Regions from separate parts of the Homo sapiens genome. Here region 1 is linked to region 2. The links come from fine-mapping of genetic effects on gene expression. A gene starts in region 2. The other region holds a variant in brackets. All regions are shown on one strand. Distances are from middle to middle.

What was found.
Region 1: its variant is fine-mapped to the expression of SPATA22 in skeletal muscle (GTEx, PIP above 0.99). The same link has a PIP of 0.9 or more in esophagus muscle, gastroesophageal junction, spinal cord, subcutaneous fat and tibial nerve.

What each region holds. Positions count from the first base shown.
Region 1 is chr17:3,511,273-3,514,182 of GRCh38, forward strand. TRPV3 (transient receptor potential cation channel subfamily V member 3) reads right to left here. Exons shown (of 18, transcript NM_145068.4): 18 at 1-2,739. The coding sequence ends at 2,645. It also overlaps a transcript of SPATA22 not described here. Among named protein-coding and RNA genes, the nearest start is that of ASPA, 37 kb to the left of the region's middle. The variant A/C (reference allele first, on the strand shown) is at 1,743.
Region 2 is chr17:3,470,169-3,473,078 of GRCh38, forward strand. It overlaps SPATA22 (spermatogenesis associated 22), which reads right to left and starts at 1,651. Exons shown (of 9, transcript NM_001170698.2): 1 at 1,514-1,651.

The DNA.
Region 1 (2,910 bases), 41 kb after region 2:
ACCTGAGAAAATAGTCCTGCCCCCCAATATAAGCGAAATACAAAGACTCAAAATGATGGAATAACTGTGCTTTTTAAAAATAAATAAATAATGGCTCAGGGAGACATCTGTGGTCCAAGAATCAGGACACTCCAGCCTCCACAGCTCTGATATGACCTTCCTGCATGACTTTGCCCAAGTACACATTCCTCTCGGAGCATTAGCCTCTGGGCGTAAAATGAAGGAAGTGCTCCTTTTCACTCTGATGCTTCTTGACTTATGGCTTCCCTTGGTAAACCTACCTAGGCTCAGACGTTTTGGCTGAAAGCCTTTTGGGGTGGACACTGTTGGGAAGAATATCCAATACAGAAAATGGTCTTGCCAACAAATTCCATCCAGACCCACAGACAGCAGATCACCAAAACATGTGAGATGACAAACATCCCTATGGCTCTCCATTCCCCACTTGGACAAAAGCTGGCAGGTTAGGCAAATAGAAATCAATAATTGGCTTTATCCATTAACATCCGAGTCAAAGCAACTCTGGATACGGCTTTATCCATAACAGATACGGCTTTATCCATTAATGGATATGACTTTCTCCATTAATATCTGAGTCAAAGCAATTCTGGAATTCCCAGCTCCATAGTGTGGAGCTTGGCATCATGAATCCAAACCACTTCCTTTCAGACCAAGATGTCTGTTCAGGCTTAATGCGGGTAGCTAACTCCAGATGTGGAATGCTGATTTGTACAATCTCCAGGCTAAAAGGGACCTTAAACTTCTTCCAATGACCATTTTCAACAACATTCCTCATTAAGTGCGCAACCAGCTTCTGCTTAAACATCTCCAACATCTGGAGCAGTTGCTGGATTCTGTTGAGCCAAAATCTTTCTCAATTTCCTAATTCTGCCCATTCTGAAACACATCTGCTCCTCCTGCCTCTAGGACAGTTCTCCTCAAATCTTCTCTTCTCCAGAGGCCCATGCCCAGCCCCGACCACTGTGGCTTAGAGCACGCGATTACTCCCTGGGTCAGCTGGGAGGGCAGGGGCTGCTGTGGATTGTGAAGCCTCACACACCCCAGCCCACCTCTCCCCAATCGGCCCCATCAGGGGCACAAAGTCTCTATCTGTCCAGCTAGTCTGGCACACAGAGTGGCCCAGGGCAGAGAAACTGGCCCAGAGTGCACTGCTAGGCCCCGACTCTTCAGTTTGCCTCAAGCCAGATGAACTTATCTATCGCCATGTTATCTGAAGGCCAAATTTCTATTTCTGCCATTTAAGATTAACATTTATGGTTACTATTTTTATAATTCCACCTCGAACATTTTTACATGAATCCTTTCACCAGATAACGGCGGCAGAGTGGATTTTCTGGTGGTTTCGGCCCCAGTCACCTGGAAAATCCTTCCGTCTCCACTTCACCTCTGCCCCCCAGACTGACTCCGTGTCATTTCAGAAAGAGAACATCAGAGGACGAGGACCTAAAAATAAGCTCAAAGTCTTGGCAAATGCTTTTCTCTCACAAGCTTCCCCTTCAGCTTCAAAATTCACAGTTAAAATTAAAAAAAAAATACTTCGTACCAAAGCAGTTGAGGCATTTTGTTAAATTCCCCCACTGAGACATACTGAGGTATGCGACTAACTGCTGAGTTCCAAGATGATATCGATCGAGCAGCTGCTATTTCTGCTTCAGCGAAAGCCACGATCCCAGCACACAGGCACGCGCTACTGTGAGGTCAGGACGAGGAAAAGAGCCAGG[A/C]CCTTTCACCCAGATCGCGGCGGCCCAGCAGGACTTGCCCGGAGTGTCTCATGCAGACTTTTGTGTGTGTGAAGAAAAGCTTTTTGTCTTGCTCTGGGCACCCTGAGGCCAAATATATAATACTTACATCCAGCCCCAAAGCCCCCAGTCTGTCTCCACTTTTAAAATCACAAACTTCATTGTAGTAATTTTCATTCTCAACTGAAATGTCTTTTCCGTATTGCAAGTTAAAACCCTGTGTTAATTCTGCTACTAAAAACATCTCTCAGCTTGAGACAGTTTGAACCTTGGGGTGTCAGGGGACGTTCACTCCAAGGATGGTCTCCTTTTCCCCGAAGGGTTCCGGAAGGGTGTTTCCAGAGCGCATTCCCCTCCTCCCCCAGGATATCCAGCTTACCTCCGTCCCCCGCACACTCTGGGATGGGATCACGGGTCTCCCACAAATTCAGGCAACCCAGTCACAGCAGAAGAGATGGTACAATGTGTGGGCTGGGGTTGGGGCTGACGGGGGAAGCTGGCAGGAGGAAAGACTCCTCTCCCTGCTCCTCAAGACTGCTGCCCCTTTCCCGCCATCCATCTCTCCCAGCCAAGCCGACCTGCAATTGGTAAAACCAGAGGCTTCACCCGGGACTTCAGGAGGCTCCCAGGCTCCAGACTGCTGCTGGCTGTAGGTTTACACCAGCTGTTTGCCAAGTAACAAAATCCAGGATGTTTCCCACTCAGACAAATTGACAACTGCCCCTCAGTTCAGACACCCACTGAGCACTGAGCACGAGGGTGCACTCTGCTTCTAGGCCAGCAGAGCCGGACTCCACCATCCCTCAAAGCCTCTCTGCACAGAGTCGGTGACTCCGCCTGCAGCGCCAGACAGCGCACGCGCACACCAGCTCTGGGTTCCGCTTCTACACCGAGGTTTCCGGGAATTCCTCGACTTCTTCAAATGCATTGAGAGTGGTTTTGCTGTTGTTCCTGGAAGAATCTTGGATTTTGTTGAAATCTGCTTTTTAAAAAAATATATATTTTAGAAATATATCACTCTGCATAGTGTGTTTCTTTTTTCTTTTTCTTTTTTTTCTTTTTTGAGATGGAGTTTCCCTCTTGTCACCCAGGCTGCAGTGCAGTGGTGTGATCTCAGCTCACTGCAACCTCCACCTCCCAGGTTCAAGCA
Region 2 (2,910 bases):
ATTTCCACAACTTCAACAAGTGAAACAAGTTTTTCCTTAGTTTTCTTCTTTTACAATAGAATTTCTCTTGTAATTTTGCACGTTTAGCCCCTTAACACATTTCATCCCCAATCTAATACAACGAACACTTGCCCACTGCAAGAAGAGGCAAGATACAAACCCAAACCAGGTAACTTCTGTTCCAAATTCACAACCCAATGAGACAGACAGACCGACACATACACAACTAAGCAATAATGCAAGTCAGGCCGAGGTGTTAACTTTCAAATATCGTTTGTAAAAATAAAACTTGGGAAACAGGCCGGGTGCAGTGGCTCACGCCTGTAATCCCAGCACTTTGGGAGGCCGAGACGGGCGGATCACGAGATCAGGAGATCAAGACCATCCTGGCTAACAGAGGGAAACCCCGTCTCTACTAAAAAATACAAAAAAATTAGCCGGGCGTGGTGGCAGGCACCTGTGGTCCCAGCTACTCGTGAGGCTGAGGCAGGAGAATGGCATGAACTCGGGAGGCGGAGGTTGCAGTGAGCGGAGATCGTGCCGCTGCACTCCAGCCTGGGCGACAGAGCGAGACTCCGTCTCAAAAAAAAAAGAAAAAAAAACAACTTGGGAAACACGAGGTCAGGTGCTGCCTCTGTTTTGTTTCCACATCTTAGGCTTGAAGCTGGGTAGAAGAGATGGACCCTTTAGAAAATATTCCTGGTGGCCAGGTGCAGTGGCTCATGCCTGTGATCCCAGCACTTCGGGAGGCCAAGGCAAGTGGGTCACCTGAGGTCGGGAGTTCAAGACCAGCCTGACCAACAACGTGAAACCCCGTCTCTACTAAAAATACAAAAATTAGCCGGGCATGGTGGTGCGTGCCTGTAATCCCAGCTACCCTGGAGGCTGAGACAGGAGAATCACTTGAACCCGGGAGGCGGAGGTTGCAGTGAGCCGAGATCACGCCACTGCACTCCAGCCTGGGCGACAGAGCGAGACTCTAGGGAAAAAATGGAGAGAGGGAGGAAGGGAGGGAGGGAAGGGAAGGAAGGAAGGAAGGGAAAGGAAAGGAAAGGAAAATATTCTTGGCGCCATCCTAGGAGCCACAACAGGGATTCTGCCACTTTCTCCACCGGCGCAACTCACATCCTATATTTAGAGGGGCTTACGAGGGCTATTATGTTTCTCAGGATCAAACAAACAGAATAAACAACAACAAAATTTTTAAGTGTAACATTCCACCCGCGGGACCATTGATCCTGAGGGCGGGGACCCTCATTTACCCCCAATCCCAGCTCCCAAATGGACCTAAGTGGCGTTAGTAATGGGGTTGGTGGCATTGGTGTGCAAAAAGTGTGCTCAATCTGCACGCACACACACACACACCACCCACAAAAACCACGGCCTCAAATGGCGGCCTGTTTTGGCTCCTGACCGCGGTGGGAGAGAAGAGGCTCCAGTCCGAGTTGAGACGCTCTTCCAAAGGCCTCTCCTGACCCGCCCACGGAGTGGGGGCAGTTTGGTATCAACGCACAGTCTTTCCCTTCTAGGCCCTCCTGCCAACACGACACACAACTTTCGCCCTCAGTTTCCCTCGCCTCCGTCAACCGTCGTCCAGGCGGCCCCGTCAGCAACCGCCGCCCTTCCCGCCCGCGAAGAAAGCGCGGGAATCAGGCTGTTCGCAGGCGCCGTGGACCGCGCAGGCGCAGTGGCCGCCACCTCGGCGCGATGGCATCTTCGCTGCCTGCCTGGCCGCCCTTGGCCGGGCGCGATGACGTTAACGCTCTTCCTTGGCGTTCTCACACTGTGGACCCAGGGATGGCTCCAGCTCCTTAGAGTTTTGCCCAGAGAGGAAAGGAGACTGTCCTGTGACTGGAGAGACAGAGGCAGATCTCCTGCCCAACCGGCCTCAGCCCCACCATCGTCTAAAAAGTGTGCCCCACTTCCCCTCACCCCCTGGCCCTTAGGGTCCAGACATCCGTTTGTTAGATGCTGGTGGCCACCCAGAGTGTGCCCAGAGATTGACTCGAAGGCCACCCGAGGTGTCTGGCTCAATTTCTGGGTCGGATCAGGGTCAGGGAATCTGAGTCCCCGGGAGGCTGGGGACAGAGCTGAAGCCCAGGTTCAGATGGCGGCCATGGAAGGCGGAGAGCCGTCAGCGAGGCAGCGCCGGGGCTGCGGGAGCTTGCGGGAGGGAAGCGCCCGTGAGCCGCAGAGACGCTCTGCAGGGGAAGCCGCGTGGTGTGCGACCCTGGGCGTTGAGCTCCAGGCTTCCTGGCAAAGAGGACTGTGGATTCCTGGCCCTGTGACCTTGGGCAAGTTACTTACTGAACACCCTCTGGACCTACCAGTAAAAGAACAATAACAACAATCGCCCTAAAAATACTAGAAGATGAAATAGACAATCCTGGCACACAGTAAATGCCCAGTAACTGTTAGCCCTTATTTAATTTGAGTAACAGTAGCTGCCATTTATCCGGAACTTACTATGGGCCAGGTAGTGGATTCTAGAGCTGTCTGAGTTCAAAGCCCATGTTTTGTTGTTACCGTATCTTCTAACCATTTGAAGACTGGGATAGGGAAGGGCTTAGAGATGAAAGGAAGATTGTTAGTAAAGGCCTAGGCCTATAAGACCACAGACATTTTAGTAGTTGCTTTAAAACTATCTCAAGTAAAGAAGAGTGTTAGAAAATAATATTAGATGTAGACTGAGACCAGATAATAGCAGACCTTGAATGCCAGAGTAAGGAACAGCTTTCAAGGAATAGGGCCATCTTTTATTTTGGGAAGAAGAAGACTTGAACAATAAAAATAAAACTTGTTATTTATCATGGTTCCAGAGAGGAGTTACCCAAAACATGAATAGAAGCTTCAGGGAAGCAGATTTTGACTTGATATCTACATACGGATGTGCATACATTTACAACACAC